Regions from separate parts of the Homo sapiens genome. Here region 1 is linked to region 2. Evidence: fine-mapped QTL for protein levels in blood plasma. A gene starts in region 2. The other region holds a variant in brackets. All regions are shown on one strand. Distances are from middle to middle.

Region 1 (8,516 bases), 670 kb before region 2:
TTTTTTTTAACATTGATAAATTACAGGCTGATTAAAGTTTGATGGGAAAAATGCAATGGGTGGAGGAGACTGAGGATACGGGAGAAAGAGGGAGGGATTTTTGAAGCAATTGGCTGAGTGGAAAAAAGGGGCTAAGATCTACTGCTAAGTGATGGATTGATCTTTTTTTTATTTTTTATTTATTTTTTATTTTTATTTATTTATTTTTTTGAGATGGAGTTTCGCTCTTGTTGCCCAGGCTGGAGTGCAATGGCATGATCTGGGCTCACCGCAACCTCCGCCTCCCGGGTTCAAGCGATTCTCCTGCCTCAGCCTCCTGAGTAGCTGGAATTACAGGCATGCACCACCATGCCAGGCTAATTTTTAGTAGAGACGGGGTTTCTCCATGTTGGTCAGGCTGATCTCGAACTCCTGACCTCAAGTGATCTGCCCGCCTCGGCCTCCCAAAGTGCTGGGATTACAGGCGTAAGCCACCGCGCCTGACCTGGGTTGATCTTTAAAAAGGGGCACAGGGGATCTGCTTCAGTGGCTCACGGCTGCATTCCCAGCACTTTGGAAGTCTGAGGTGGGAGGATCACTTGAGCCTGGGAGGTCGAAGTTGCAGTGAACCATGGTTGTGCCACTGCACCCTAGCCTGGGTGACAGAGTGAGACCTTGTCAAATGACAAACAACAACAACAACAACAACAAACAAACAAACATCGCATGCAGAGCTGTGGAAAGAGGCTGGGCACCGTGGCTCACGCCTATAATCCCAGCACTTTGGGAGGCCGAGGCGGACAGATCACCTGAGGCCAGGAGTTCGAGACCAGCCTGGGCAACATGGTGAAACCCCTGTCTCTACCAAAAATACAAAAATTAGCTGGGCGTGGTGACGCAAGCCTGTAATCCCAGCTACCTGGGAGGCTGAGGCAGATGAATCGCTTGAACCTGGGAGGCAGAGGTTGCAGTGAGCTGAGATTGCACCATTGCATTCCAGCCTAGGCAACAGAGCAAGATTCTGCCTCAAAAAAAAAAAAAAAAAAAAAAAAGCTGTGGAAGGAAGGAAGGTGGGGCACACACATGTTCACAGATGCAGGGTGCGTGTGGGTGTGGGAGCTTATGGAAGTTCTCTTGTGATGAAATCATTGGCTGAGGGTGAGCACACAGGAGGACGGGTTGTGCACGAGAAGAGAGAGAAGGCACGAAATAATCTCTAGGAGTGTGGGAGAGTGAATGGCCTGAGAAAGGTGGTAAGATGGTAAGGTTGCCAAGCAATCCCGGGGGTCCACTTGAAGTTAATGGTCACGCATTTGAAATAAGTCCCTGTGGTTGTGAGTTTTCCCCAGCCTGTTCAGCTGCACGGGTACAGCTGTAGAGTAGAAGAGTTGGAATTAACGGTGTTTTTCTGGGTGACTACAGAAAAGGGGCAAAGAAGTTGAGGATGTATATAAAGGAGTGACTGTAATGATGGACCATGGAATGTCAGACGCAAAGACGGAAGTGAGGCAATGTCAAGTGTAAGAGATGATGGAAAGGTGGTAGAATCAATGGATTGTGGGTCCAAAAGGAGTCAAAGAATTACTGGAGATGGAATACTTGAAAAGCGGGCTGGAGGTAGAGGTAGTGATTATCGAGCAGGATGCTTGAAATCAGGATTATGGGGTTACAGCTATCGGAACGATAGTTGTAACTTCTCACTAGCATAATGTTCTCAAGGGTCCTCCTCTTTGTTGGTATTGAAGTGATTATGATTCTTAGTGTTGGAGAAAATGTGAAATCATCAAGGAACAGGGAAGAGTGACTCAGGTTCTGTAGCTGTCTGCCTTAAGGAGGGAGGAGGGTGGTCCAGTCTGATGACCTGGGACCTACAGTCAGCTCACATGAAGAGGGATTTACTCCAGGGCATCCAGCGATAGAAGAGGAATGATAAGGCTGGCTATCAGGAACTGGATCCAGAAAGTCAAGAACCAAGGTTGTGCTCTCTGGGCCACCAGGCTTTCTCATTTCTGCCTCTCCCTGCCCTTCCCTTTCTCTCGAAGCCATCTTCTTCCTCCTCACCTGACCTGACATGGCCTCCACAGCCCCTCCACAGCCCCAACACAATACAACCTTGCCTTTCAACTTTCTTCTAACTGCTTTCATCTCTGTCCCACATTTCCAGGACAAAGAGCCTGACTGCCTCAGCCCAGCCGAAGAATCGGTGTCTTTCTGGGTCTACTGTCCACTCTTAGGTCAGTCAACCATGGTCCGGGGGGATGGGGGCCTGTGGCACAACATAGCAGCCCAGGCAGTAGGCTGAGACCTCTCAGAACCAGATGTGGCTGGAGAGACCAGGAGCAGCCTCACTGGTGCCTCTCCCAGGAGGCACAAACACCAGCTAAGTAAGGAGAAGGCAGGAAGCTGTGCTCCGATGTCCCCAGGTGATGCTGAGGTGGAGCTCCGCTCTCCACCCTCCCTGGCCATCCTGCCCTGGGGAACAGTTTCTGGCTCTCAGCACCTCCCTGTCTGATAAACCCTCAGCGTTGCTCAGAGTCATCTGGACAGACAAGATTCTGCCTTCGGGCCTGAGAAAGCCTGGCTGGTACACTATCCATCCCTATGATAGCTATTTGGGCTTTCTGTTTGTTTGTTTTTAATTTTAAGACAGAGTCTCGGTCTGTCACCAAGGCTGGAGTACAGTGGTGCCATCTCAGCTCACTGCAGCCTCGACCTCCCAGGTTCAAGCGATTCTCTTGCCTCAGCCTCACAAGTAGCTGGGACTACAGGTGCCTGCCACCATGCCCGGCTATTTTTTTATATTTTTAGTAGAGATGGGGTTTCACCGTGTTAGCCAGGATGGCCTCTATCTCCTGACCTCGTGATCCGCCAGCCTCAGCCTCCCAAAGTGCTGGGATTATGGGCATGAGCCACCGTGCCCAACCGGGGGTATTTGTTTTTTTTTAACGTTGATAATTTAAGGATGACTGAAGGCTGATGGGAAGATCCAAAGGGCGAAGAAGATCAACGATGCAGGAGAAAGGGGCAGGGATTATTGAAGCAACGAGCTGAGTAGAAAAGAGAGGCCAGGATTGGGGGCTCTCTCACTGACCAGTTCTGTGGGATTTGCTGGGACCTCTTCCTATCATGTCACAGAGGCTTCAGGAGAAAGAACTTTTGTCACAAGAGATCAGCTTGAGCCACAACCCTGCCTAAGTCCCTTAGCTGATTCTCATGGGGGAGACAACAAGAGAGAGAGGAAATGGAAAGGAAAGGACTCTCTGAGATTCTCTAAATTGTGGGGAAATGCAGGTTATTTTATTTTATTTTAATAAAATTTTATTGGCCAGGTGTGGTGGCTCACACCTGTAATCCCAGCGCTTAGGGAGGCTGAGTCAGGCAGATGGCTTGAGCCCAGGAGTTCAAGACCAGCCTGGGTAACATAGCAAAACACTGTCTCTATAAAAAATACAAAAATTAGCTGGTGTGGTGGCACATGCCTGTGGTCCCAAGTGGCTGAGGTGGGAAAATTGCTTGAGCCCTCGAGGTTGAGGCTGCAGTGAACCGTGATGGTGCCACTGCACTCCAGCTCTAAAAAAAAAAAAAAAAAAAAAAAAAAAAAAGAGAATGTATTGATTTTTTTTTCTTTTTTCTGAGATGGAGTCTCACTCTGTTGCCCAGGCTGGAGTACAGTGGTGCGATCTTGGCTCACTGCAACCCCCACCTCCCAGGTTCAAGCAATTCTTCTGCCTCAGCCTCCCGAGTAGCTGGGATTACAGGTGTATGCCACCATACCCAGCTAATTTTTTGTATTTTTAGTAAAGATGGTGTTTCACCATGTTGGCCAGGCTGGTCTCGAACTCCTGACCTCAGGTGATCCACCTGCCTTGGCCTCCCAAAGTGCTGGGATTACAGGTGTGAACCACCATGGCCAGCCCTTCTTTCCATTTTTTGACATAGTGTTCTGGACCTTACTTTCACTTTATATAATTTAGAGGTTGTTCTCTATGAGTATATAGCAAGCTCTCTGATTATTTTTCTTCCTTTTTTTTTTAAACTGCTGCATAGTATTCCACTGAAATGGATCTCCCTGATTTATTTAGCTGATCTCCTACTGATGAACATTTGGCTCATTTCTGATCTTCTACTACTGTAAACAATGGTGCAGTGAATATCCTTGTGCATAAATTATTTCACACATGTAAAAACATATCTGTTAGATACATTCCTAGGAGTAGAAGTACTAGCTAAGAGGCATATTTTATTTGCATTTTCTTTGCATTTGTTTGTTTGTTTTTTGAGACACAGTCTCACTCTGTCACCCAGGCTGGAGTGCAGTGGCACAGCCACGGCTCATTGCAGCCTTGACCTTCTGGGCTCAAGCAATTCTCCTGCCTCAACCACCTGAGTAGCTGGGACTACAGGCATGCATCACCATGCCCAGCTAATTTTTTTGATATTTTGTAGGACGGGGTCTCACTATGTTACTCAGGTTGGTCTTGAACTCCTGGGCTCCAGGGATCCTCCCTCCTCAGCCTCTCAAAGTGCTGGGATTACAGCGTCAGCCACCAT[G/A]CCTGGCCTCATATTTGCACTTTCAACTTTTATAGATTTATTTAAGTTATGCTCTATAGCAACTGGGGTTTTGTGCAAGAACCGGAAACCACTTTAGGTAGTTCAAGCAGGAGATTTAATGGAGGAAATTAGGTGTTCACAAAATTGCTGAAATGACTGTAGGAGGGGCTTTGGCCTGGGCCTCCAAGAGGTCAATACACAGGTAACTTTCTGGGGAAGCCACTCCTCTGCGATCACTACTGGAACTGCAGCCAGAAGTTAGGATCAAAATGTCACTACTGACACCTAGGATGCCAGATAATGGACTCTGAATATGCTGCAGAAAAATCTCAGGTCTCCACAACCCTCCTTGACAGCAGAGATAGCCAAAAGTACAGAGAAAATGGCCTTTGTCTTTCCATCACCTACCCCGTGTCTCATTAATTCTTCTAACTAGTAGGACCTAATTTCTATCCAAAACTCTAGCTGCAAGGGAGTCTGGGACGTGTAGGTTTAGCTTTCCAATGTCTCCACCTAGAAGAGGGTGGAATGAGTCAGATTGAGAGAGCCAGTCCACAGTACTCTCTACACCCTCCATAAAAGGGGTACCAAATTACACTACCACCAACATGGGATCCTGTCAACTCTTTGATTTGCTAATCCAAAACATGGAAAACAGTACCTTATTGTTTTAATTAACATTTCTCTTATTATGAGAGGTTGAGTATCTTATCTTACAAATCATCAAAAAATATATCTCTGTGAATAGAATCCAATGGGAGTGCTGCCCCCTGGAGTTGTGCAGCATGGTGACCCTGTAATATGAATAAATGCCATTTAAATGTCTTTTTTATGTATGAATTCTGTATGTCTTTTGTCCACAGATGGTCTTTTAGTTTCCACCATGATATATGTAACATACATGGAGTCTGTATAATGGTACAGTTTTCTAAACCTAGAGTTTAGCTAGTGATCCCACAATTTTTTTCCCTTTGGGTCATTTCTCCCCAGGATATAGTCCCAGTGAGGGGTAGGGAGGGACAGCCTGTACTTGAAATGTCACAAGCATGTCAAATTCTGGAGGTCTAGAACTTTGAAATTAAACTACACTCAAAGTGTCTCTCCAATGCCAGTTTACACAAAATTCTAGTTTGCCTCCTGCCTGAAGATTTAATTATGAATCATGCTGGATGGAGGAGTGAGGACACTGTGTGCCTAGTGAGCTGGGCGGTCATTCCTGCCTGCTGGGCTTTATGTTCCTGTGGTTTATAATGTCTTCTCCAGTGAATAATAACCTCGGGTTCATGCCAGGCCTTTTGGTCTTTGTTGATGATCTATAGGGACTGGAAGCCTGAGATCTCAAATTCAAGAACAGGCCTTTTAAGCCTGGTCAATCAATCAGGCTGCATAGTCAGAGCCACAGATAGTACAAGCTGCCAAGCTGCTGATGTAGAAAAAGACCCAAGTACTCAAAGGAACACACCATTCGCCAGAAAGTATGGGGTTGATTTTTTTTTTTCTCTTGAAATTGTTCAGTTGCTAGCAGGCTTCAGGTGTCAGTGGCAAGGCCAGCCAACAAGGAGAGCACTTATGGGCTTTCCCATAAACCCCAATCTGATGCACCAAATTTTGCCATTAGGTATTCACTCCTTTGGCTTAAACATTCCCCCATCAACCCAGCACTCCCTCCTGACCTGCTGATTATTTTCCACTTGGTCAAGCTGGAAGTGTTCTGGTCATTTTTGATCCTCTCCTCTTCTCCTCCTCCTGTCCCAATCCAATTAATCATGATGCCCACTGAATTATTCCTTCAGGGTACCTGGGGAAGACATGCTGGAGTCGTAAAGTACCGGCTATGACCCTGAGCAAGTGCTTCCAATTCTCTCTCAGCCTCGGTTTCTTCACCTGTAAGGGAGAGCTAACAATATCCTACCTCACAAGGTTTTTGTGAGGATTAAAAATAATACATGGAGGCTGGGCACGGTGGCTCATGCCTGTAATCCCAGCACTTTGGGAGGCTGAGGTGGGCAGATCACAAGGTCAGGATTTCGAGACCAGCCTGACCAACATGGTGAAACCCTGTCTCTACTAAAAATACAAAAATTAGCTGGGCATGGTGGCATGCATCTGTAATCCTAGCTATTCAGGAGGCTGAGGCAGGAGAATCGCTTGAATCCGGGAGGCAGAAGTTGCAGTGAGCCAAGATCCTGCCACTGCACTCCAGCTTGGGGGACAGAGTGAGACTCTGTCTCAAAATAAATAAATAAATAAATAAATAAATATTTAAAAAACCACATGGTTTTATTAAAAACAAAACATGCACACATATACCCCAACACTTCCCCAGAAGCCTCTTCAGCTAACTAGTGTCAAGCCTTGTGACTTACAAGACCACATAGATTATATTTTAAAACACACACAATACTAATAATACATGGTTTTATAAAAGTGAGGTCACAGCCCATGTATAAAACACAGATATTTGAGAAAAGAAAAAGAAAACCCAACAACAACAAAATAGATATGTGGCCCAAGTTGATACTTTCCTTTCTAGTCCTTTCTTTCATGATCTAACCCTACGTTCTTGCTTCATTTCTGCCACAGCTTCTTTCTTTCTTTTTTTTTTTTTTTTTTTTGAGACAGGGTCTTACTTCCATCACCCAGGCTAGAGTGCAGTGATTCAATCTCAGCTCACTGCTGCCTTGACCTCCCAGGCTCAGGGGATTCTCCCATCTCAGTAGGTGTAGCTGGCACCACAGGCGCGTGCCACCATGCCCAGCTAATTTTTTGGGATTTTTTTTTTTTTTGAGACAGAGTTTCGTTCTTGTTGCCTAGGCTGGAGTGCAGTGGCGCCATCTCGGCTCACTGCAACTTCCGCCTCTCAGGTTCAAGCGATTCTCCTGCCTCAGCTTCCCAAGTAGCTGGGATTACAGGCATGCACCACCGCGCCCGGCTAATTTTGTGTTTTTAGTAGAGATGGGGTTTCTCCATATTGGTCAGGCTGGTCTCGAACTCCTGACCTCAGGTGATCCGCCTGCCTCCGCCTCCCAAAGTGCTGGGATTACAGGCTTGAGCCACTGCGCCCGGCCTTTTTTGTATTTTTTGTAGGGACAGAATTTTGCCATGTTGCCCAGGCTGATTCTGAACTCCTGGGTGCAAGTGAGCCTCCCGCTTCAGCCTCCCAAAGTGCTGAGATTATAGGCATGAGCCACCGTGCCTGGCCTTGCAACAACTTCTTAACTGTCCTTGCAATGACTAGTTCGTTTCCCTGTCCCACCTTCAGTTTACCTCCTCTTCAAAACATCCTCCTTCTCACTGCTGCTTGCTCAGCTTAATTTTGCTAAAACGCTTCTCAGATGATGAACTCCTCGTGTTCAACAATCTTCGATGGTCCCCATTGTCTTTGGGTATTGAGTCCAGATTCTTTAGCCTGGTGATGAAGGCTTTCCTGAACTGAACCAAACCTAGTCCAATTAACAACCACCTCCCGGTAGGACGCGGTGGCTCACACCTGTAATCCCAGCACTTTGGGAGGCTGAGGCGGGTGGATCACCTGAGGTCAGGAGTTTGAGACCAGCCTGGCAAACATGGAGAAACCCCATCTCTACTAAAAATACAAAAATTAGCCAGGTGTGGTGGCGCACGCTTGTAATCCCAGCTACTTGGGAGGCTGAGGCAGGAGAATCACTTGAGCCCAGGAGGCGGAGGTTGCAGTGAGCTGAGATTATGCCATTGCACTCCAGCCTGGGCAACAAGAGTGAAACTCCGTCTCAAAAAAACAAAAAACAACCACCTCCCAAGTGCTCCCAGTGTGCCCACCTCAGGCTTGACTTAGGGATGGGGATTTGGCAATGAGTAAGATTCAGTCCCCTCCACTAACTAGTGGAGAGACAGACAGATGCATAGACATTTTCTTTTTATTTTAATCTTTTTTATTTTTTGCCTTTTATTTTTTAATTTTATTTTTTGAGACAGGGTCTTACTCTGTCACCCAGGCTGGAGTGCAG
Region 2 (8,061 bases):
CCTTCTCTGTGGTCAGGGTAGCCCTGTGGCTGACGCTGCAGTCATTGGGCTGAAGCTGTTCCCTGAGTCCCCAAAGTTGCCCTGCATCTGCGCCTCTGGCTAGGCTGCCCCAAACTACCTGGGGTAGTGGGGGGCAGCTGTGGTGGTGACACAGCTACCCCTGCAGAAAACCTGTGGAGCGCCTACCTGGAGAAGGGTGACATCGTGGAGAAGCATGGGCTGCCCTCCGCAGATGCCCCGAGCCTGAAGGAGAGCCTGCCTCTGTACGTGGTCGCTGACATCGCCACATCCTTCACCGTGCTGGTCGGCATCTTCTTCCCTTCTGTAACAGGTGAGCCCTGCCTGCCTACCCACCCAGCCCTGTCCCCAATCCCGGGGAGCCCCTGAGGGAGTCTCATCTGTTTTTGGAGGCATCATGGCTGGCTCAAACCGCTCTGGGGACCTTCGTGACGCCCAGAAGTCTATCCCTGTGGGGACCATTCTGGCCATCATTACAACTTCCCTCGTGTGTATCCTTTCCCAGGCCTGGGGCAGGTGGGGCAGAGGACGGGAAGCGCTTGGCCTGTGTACGTTGCCAGGTCACATGCACAGACACCCCACACACTCATATATAGCTCCCCTTCTCATGCACACATGCACATACACACCACGAGACTCCCAGCTGTAGGTGTCCTGGTAGTCTGGCTGGGGTGGGGGCACGTGGTACTATTCAGGGACAGTGGGGTGGCAGAGGCCGAGTTTTCCTTGACGCCGCCGCAGACTTCAGCAGTGTGGTTCTCTTTGGTGCCTGCATTGAGGGTGTGGTTCTCCGGGACAAGTGAGTGAGCTGGGCCCCCCTCTTTAGCAGCGGCTGGGCTTTGGCCTGCCCTCACACCAGCTCCCAACCCCGTGGGTGGTCCTAAGCCTGCTGGCTGCCTTTGGTGGTCTGTGCCATCCTTCCGGACCCCTGACATCCCTCACTCTGGTGGCCCCTGCAGGTATGGCGATGGTGTCAGCAGGAACTTGGTGGTGGGCACACTGGCCTGGCCTTCACCCTGGGTCATCGTCATCGGCTCCTTCTTTTCAACGTGTGGCGCTGGCCTCCAGAGCCTCACAGGGGCACCACGCCTATTGCAGGCCATTGCCAAGGACAACATCATCCCCTTCCTCCGGGTGAGCCCCTCTGCACTCCCCCATGGCCTGGCTGCTCCCAGGCCCTCGCCCGGCTGGGGAGAGAGATAGGGAACACAGATGCAGCACGTCCTGCCCTTATTGGCCCCCGGGGCCAGGCGGCCATCCATGAGGAGCTACTGAGAAGTGCCCTGGGCCTGGCACTCACCTGGGCCTGGAGCTGCCTGGACCCAGAATCTTCATGGCCTGTTTAGGGCTCATCCAAAGGAGAGAGGCCTGGTGAGGTGGAATCAGGGAGACTGGTGACACCCATAGGGATAGACACAGGGGCGGCCTGAGCCCCCAAGGCGGGCCCTGGGGGTGAGGGAGGCCAGGCTGGGGTCTGGGGCCCAAGGTGTGGAATGGGGGTGACAGGACCCAGCTTCCTTCCTGGTGCACACAGGTGTTTGGCCACGGGAAGGTGAATGGTGAACCCACATGGGCACTCCTCCTGACGGCACTCATCGCCGAGCTGGGCATCCTCATCGCCTCCCTCGACATGGTGGCCCCCATCTTATCCATGTGAGCTGGGGCCGGGCAGGGCAGGGGGATGGGGAAAGGCTTCCTGAACCCCAGCACCTCCCCGTGGCTGCGTCTGGTGTTGGAGGTCCAGCTGGGAGATGTGGCAGGCTGCATGGGGAGATGTGGCCTGACAGGGCTCAGCCCACCCCTGCATTTAGGAGCAAGCCTGGCACCTATGCCAAAGCTATAAGGTGACCAATATGTCCACACCTCCCTGAGGCCCCCAGAGCAGGTGGCCGGCAGACCTTCCCACTGGACAGGGCAACCACCGCGTCCCTCATGCCTCCATGAAGCCACTGCTGCCCCTTCCATCTGTTAGTTTGTTTTTTGGTTTTTGTTTTTTTTTTTTGAGACAGAGTCTCACTCTCTCACCCAGGCTGGAGTGCAATGGCATGATCTTGGCTCACTGCAATCTCCGCCTCCTGGGTTCAAGCAATTCTCCTGCCTCAGCCTCCTGAGTAGCTGGGATTACAGAAATGCACCACCACGCCCAGCTAATTTTTTGTATTTTTAGTAGAGATGGCGTTTTACCATCTTGGCCAGGCTGGTGTCGAACTCCTGACGTCAGATGATCCACCTGGCTCGGCCTCCCAAAGTGCTGGGATTACAGGCGTGAGCCACCATGCCCAACCCATCCATTTTCAAAGTCATTTGCTTTTAACATTCTGGAATCAGCCAGGCAAATCTGCGTGCCAGTGCCTTGCAGGGAGTGGCCAGCATGTGGTGACTCCCAGGGACCCCGAGGCAGCGCTTGTTTGGTTGACTCTGTCCAGGCTGGGGTCCTCGCCCACCCTGCTCCGTGGCTGACGCTCCTTCTTGCTTGTGCGGTTATGAAAGGCCTCCTCTTCCCTGCCCACTCAGCCTGCAGACTTGACAGGGGCCCTGTACCCCTGAGCAGGCTCCATCCCAGCTACAGCCAGGCCTGCTGGAGCCAGCACCCTCTTGTCCACCCCCCCACACCCCTTCCTCTCACCCAAGAGCACACCTGAAACTGTTTTGCCACAGCCATCTTGGGTGGTGACCCCCCTTGTGCCCAAATCAGAGGCTACATCTCAGCCTTTATCTCGGGCCTCCTGCTGGGAGCCCCTGCCCCCTGGCATGCCCTGTGTGGGTCCTCCTGCCTTCCTGCGCACCCGTCCTCGGGTGCCTTCCTGGAGGGCTCATGCAGCTGGCCCTGCCCATGCGTGGGACTCCCACGCCCACCGCAGTGACTCTTAAGTATCTCTGACTGGTTGCATTCAAATGGTCCAGCTTATCTTCCATCCTCCCCTTCATGCATGGCAGCCTCTCATCCAGCTGGTCACTCAGGCCAGAGGCCTGAATGTGGCCTAGAGTCTCCAGGCACTGAGCTCTTCCTGCTGCCCCTGCACCACCCTCTTCAGCTCTGCCCTGTTACTCCCCTTCCTACCTCCTCCAACAGCAAACCCTTGCCCATCCTCTGCGATCTGGCTCCGAGGACTCCTCCACAGTAGTCTCATTGCCTCAGGCCATGGAGGTGGCAGCAATGAGGTTGAGAAGACCTTGCTGAGCCATGCAGGGCAGGGCCGGGCCACGCCCCGTTTCTGGGCCAGGCCCAGCCTGACATCAGGTCCCCAGCTGCCGAGGAGGCTGCTCTTCGCCAACCGCCCTCTGTGCCGCAGGTTCTTTCTGATGTGCTACCTGTTCGTGAACCTCGCCTGTGCGGTGCAGACACTCCTGAGGACCCCCAACTGGCGGCCCCGGTTCAAGTACTATCACTGGTGAGCCATGCCTCTGACACGGGAGACCCTGGGGAGGCCAGGAGCCTCATTCTGGGTGAGGCTTGGGTTTCCTGGGTAGGGAGCTCTTGAAACACTGTGGGGAGGGAGATTATAGGGCTGCGGGGGACTGGACCTAGGTCTTACACCCAGTGACCTGACCACCCACCTGGGACCTCCCACCCGGGACCTGACAGGGCTACCAGGGCATGGGCCAGGCTGTGGCCAGGGGTCCTCCTGGTCCTGCCCTGACTCTGCCCTCCCCTCTCGTCCAGGGCGCTGTCCTTCCTGGGCATGAGTCTCTGCCTGGCCCTTATGTTTGTCTCCTCCTGGTACTATGCCCTGGTGGCCATGCTCATCGCCGGCATGATCTACAAATACATCGAGTACCAAGGGTGAGTGAGCACTGCCACCTGGCCTCTGCCAGCTGAGGGGGCCCGGCCGAGCAGGCAGGGTGGTCTGGCATTGGGGTGGGCAGGGAGCTGGGCCACCGTGGGTGCCAGGACTGGGGACTGTAACTCAGGACCCCTGGGTGGTCTTGAGGGGCAGAACCCCTCCACCTCGCATCCACATAGACAGAACCCCCTGGGCGGCACCAGGGGCTCACCAGCTGTGGTGGAATCTGCAGGGCTGAGAAGGAGTGGGGTGACGGGATCCGAGGCCTGTCCCTGAGCGCTGCCCGCTACGCGCTGTTGCGGCTGGAGGAGGGGCCTCCTCACACCAAGAACTGGCGGTGAGTTCCCGCCAGACCCTGGCCAGGGCGCAGAGGTTCTTAGGGGTCGCTGTCGGGGTCAGAGGGTCGAGAGGTGCCGGCTCCCCATCCTGGGGCTGCCCGGGGCACCCTCCTGGGCCATGCTACCCAAACCTGCAGGGACCACGACCCGAGAAGGGAAGAAGAGGAGGGGCTCCCTAGAACGGCCGGCCCTGGTCTCAGGCTCCCCCCACCCGGCCACTGCAGGCCGCAGCTGCTGGTGCTGCTGAAGCTGGACGAGGACCTCCACGTGAAGTACCCGCGGCTCCTCACCTTCGCCTCCCAGCTCAAGGCTGGCAAGGGCCTGACCATTGTTGGTTCTGTCATCCAGGGGAGCTTCTTGGAGAGCTATGGCGAGGCTCAGGCCGCCGAGCAGGTACTTGCTTTGGGGAGGGAGAGCTGAGCCAGACTACAGGGGTCTGGACTGCAGCTGGCACGGAGGGGAGGGCCCAGTCTTGGCCAGGGTGGCCAGCCAGGCAGCCAGCACTGCTGCCACCTGAGAGCTGGCACAAGGGGGAGCCAGCAGTCCCATCTTGAAAACTTGGCCTCTGGGTAGGCAGCTTGTTGCCCCCAGGCCCTCCTCCACCCAAAAGTCGTTTTGTTCCCGAGGGGCCTTGGGAGGGAGCCCAGAGGCAGGAAGCTGATGGCCTCCCATTGGCCCTGGGTGTGTTCCCCACAGACCATCAAGAACATGATGGAAATTGAGAAGGTGAAGGGCTTCTGCCAGGTGGTGGTGGCCAGCAAGGTGCGGGAGGGGCTGGCCCACCTCATCCAGTCCTGTGGCCTGGGAGGCATGCGGCATAACTCCGTGGTGCTGGGCTGGCCCTACGGCTGGCGACAGAGCGAGGACCCCCGTGCCTGGAAGACCTTCATTGGTGTGTGAAGGCCTGGGGCCTGGTGGGCAGGGGTGAAGTGAGGTGGCAGTGGGCGGAGGGCCACAGACTGGTGGTCAGCCGTGCTCCTCCTCCCCAGACACCGTGCGCTGCACTACGGCTGCCCACCTGGCCCTGCTCGTGCCCAAGAACATCGCCTTCTACCCCAGCAACCACGAGCGCTACCTGGAGGGCCACATAGACGTGTGGTGGATCGTGCACGATGGTGGCATGCTCATGCTTCTGCCCTTCCTGCTGCGCCAGCATAAGGTAGACCAGGGGGTGGGTGCAGATGAGAGGGGCTAGGCCCTTGGAGGAGCAGCTGTGACCAAACCGCCCACCTGGTCCCTTGCCTCAGGTCTGGAGGAAGTGCCGGATGCGCATCTTCACAGTGGCCCAGATGGATGACAACAGCATCCAGATGAAGAAGGACCTGGCTGTCTTTCTGTACCATCTGCGCCTTGAGGCCGAGGTGGAGGTGGTGGAGATGGTGAGCCCTCTGCCCTGCCCTGGCCCCGTGGATACCATGTCCCGTGCAGCTGGGTCCTCACGGCCAACCCTGTCCCCAGCATAACAGTGACATCTCTGCATACACCTACGAGCGGACGCTGATGATGGAGCAGCGGTCGCAGATGCTGCGGCAGATGAGACTGACCAAGACTGAGCGGGAGCGAGAAGTCAGTGCCCTTTGTGGTTCACGCCAGGGCGGGTGGCAGGGTCAGGCCTTTGGAGACCGCATCGGTGGGTGCGGAGGAATCAGAATGACTCACCGCAGCCCTACCCAAGCTAGTGCTCATTTCCCGGAGGCAAGGTGGTCACATTGGGCCAGACAGGCCCCATCCCCCTTTTCCTATGGGACCAAGGCTATCTCCTGCAATTGTCCTCAGGCCCAGCTGGTCAAGGATCGGCACTCGGCCCTGCGGCTGGAGAGCCTGTACTCGGACGAGGAAGATGAGTCTGCAGTGGGGGCTGACAAGATCCAGATGACGTGGACCAGGGACAAGTACATGACTGAGACCTGGGACCCCAGCCATGCCCCTGACAATTTCCGGGAGCTGGTGCACATTAAGCCGTGAGTGCAGCAAAAACAGCCCCAGCGGCACTGGAATCTAGGGGTGGAGGTGGGGTGGGGCAGACAAGTAGTGTTAGATGGGCCAGGGGTGGGGACCCTCCTTGCAGGATGGCTCATGGCGACCTGTGACTGGCTACACTACGTGTAGGGACCAATCCAATGTGCGGCGCATGCACACTGCTGTGAAGCTCAATGAAGTCATTGTCACGCGCTCCCACGACGCCCGCCTGGTTCTCCTAAACATGCCTGGCCCACCCAGGAACAGTGAGGGCGACGAGAACTGTATCCCTTTGTGGAGAGGCAGGCAGTTGGGAGGTGGATAGCATGGGAGGTCAAGCCAGCGGCTTCTCTCCTGGGCACCCCTGGGTGGGCATGGCCCAGGTGGCCCGGGTTGCCCGTTGATTCTGTTGTTGCCTCCTTGACTTGAGGCCCTGCAGACATGGAGTTCCTCGAGGTGCTGACCGAGGGCCTTGAGCGGGTGCTGTTGGTGCGCGGTGGTGGCCGTGAAGTCATCACCATCTACTCCTGAGCCCAGTGTCATCTTGTGGCCTGGAGTCGAGGTCTTGGCCAGGACATAACAAGCTGTGGTCTGGGGTAACAGCCTCTTCCCAGCACCCACCTGCCAGCCCTGCTTGCCTGGCCCTGTCCTGGACCCAGCTTTGCTAGGTCTCCTTGGAAACCAGGCCTGGGCCTCAAAATGGAGATGGATCCCAGGTCTTGTGGGACCCTGGGATGTTTGGGGACTTTACTATCTAGCACCCCAGTAGGCCTGTCCTGGCCAGAGAAGACTGGTAGGGGCCGAGTGGGGTTTGAAGGCAGCCGGCCCGGCCCAGCCCAGGAGCGCTATTTATTGCATATTTATTGTTTGGATGTCACCATCAGAGACGAAGGGAAGGGTAGCCAGGGAGGGAGTCCAGCCCAGCTGCCTGCAGGAAGATCTGGCTCAGTCTACTATGGGCAGGGCCCCCCACCAAGCTGAGCCGAATGGAGACAGCTGAGCTGAGGCCTGACTTTTTCAATAAAACATTGTGTAGTTCTGGGCCTCCTGCTGCCCCGGCTCTGTTTCCCCTGGCGCCAAGAGAAGAAGGCGGAACTGAACCCAGGCCCAGAGCCGGCTCCCTGAGGCTGTGCCCCTTTCCGGCAATCTCTGGCCACAACCCCCACTGGCCAGGCCGTCCCTCCCACTGGCCCTAGGGCCCCTCCCACTCCCACACCAGATAAGGACAGCCCAGTGCCGCTTTCTCTGGCAGTAGGCACCAGGGCTGGAATGGGGCCGCCCGGCTCCCCATGGCAGTGGGTGACGCTGCTGCTGGGGCTGCTGCTCCCTCCTGCCGCCCCCTTCTGGCTCCTCAATGTGCTCTTCCCCCCGCACACCACGCCCAAGGCTGAGCTCAGTAACCACACACGGCCCGTCATCCTCGGTAAGCCCCCACCAGGCCCCTGATGCACCACGCCAGACCCTGGGGAGCCTGGGCCCCAGCCCCTGGCAGCTGACCTGGCCAAAGCCCTTCTGCCCTGCATAAGCCCCGACATAAGTACCTGCCCTGGTGTGGGGAGGGGCCAAAAGCTTGTCCCTTAGAGGAATGACGTCCCTTCTCCCACCACACTGTGACTCTCAGTTGTCTAACCCAGGGGGGGCGGAGTGGGGGACGGGGTGTGCCTGAGGTCTTGGCTGGGGCATCACAAGCTGTGGTCAGTCACAGCCACACCAGACTCTGGGCCAAGCCCCACCACTCCTTCCTTGGCCCCCACCCACCAAGGACAAGATGCCCAGCCCAGGATCGGTGAGCAGGAGAGGCCCATCCATGCCCGGCCCCTATTAGGCCCAGCCCCCATGCCCCCAGACCTATCTGTTCCCACCTTGGACTTTGGCAATAAAGGAGCGCCAGACTGGGTGTTTGCTCTGCAGAGGCAGGGGTCAGCGGCCTTGGCCTCAGCACCTCAGCGCCTTCCCTTCCT

Alleles and levels. Positions count from the first base shown, and alleles are read on the strand shown. Strength reflects both the effect of a copy and how common the allele is.
In carriers of allele A in region 1, the plasma level of the protein whose gene starts at base 7,351 in region 2 tends to be lower than with G alone (weak association).

Evidence for each region. PIP is the chance, under the fine-mapping model, that this variant and not a neighbour inherited with it causes the effect. Protein levels are from antibody-based Olink assays in UK Biobank. Linkage for the fine-mapping came from a reference panel and not from the study's own genotypes, which makes the PIPs less certain.
Region 1: its variant is fine-mapped to the plasma level of the LCAT protein (UK Biobank, PIP 0.97).

What each region holds. Positions count from the first base shown.
Region 1 is chr16:68,610,525-68,619,040 of GRCh38, reverse strand. No RefSeq gene overlaps it. Among named protein-coding and RNA genes, the nearest start is that of CDH3, 31 kb to the left of the region's middle. The variant G/A (reference allele first, on the strand shown) is at 4,531.
Region 2 is chr16:67,943,410-67,951,470 of GRCh38, reverse strand. It overlaps LCAT (lecithin-cholesterol acyltransferase), which reads left to right and starts at 7,351. Exons shown (of 6, transcript NM_000229.2): 1 at 7,351-7,523. The coding sequence starts at 7,370. It overlaps SLC12A4 (solute carrier family 12 member 4), which reads left to right. Exons shown (of 24, transcript NM_005072.5): 9 at 167-331; 10 at 411-509; 11 at 760-817; 12 at 978-1,152; 13 at 1,553-1,671; 14 at 3,312-3,410; 15 at 3,683-3,802; 16 at 4,036-4,140; 17 at 4,366-4,534; 18 at 4,838-5,033; 19 at 5,131-5,300; 20 at 5,389-5,520; 21 at 5,600-5,707; 22 at 5,918-6,102; 2 more. The coding sequence ends at 6,631.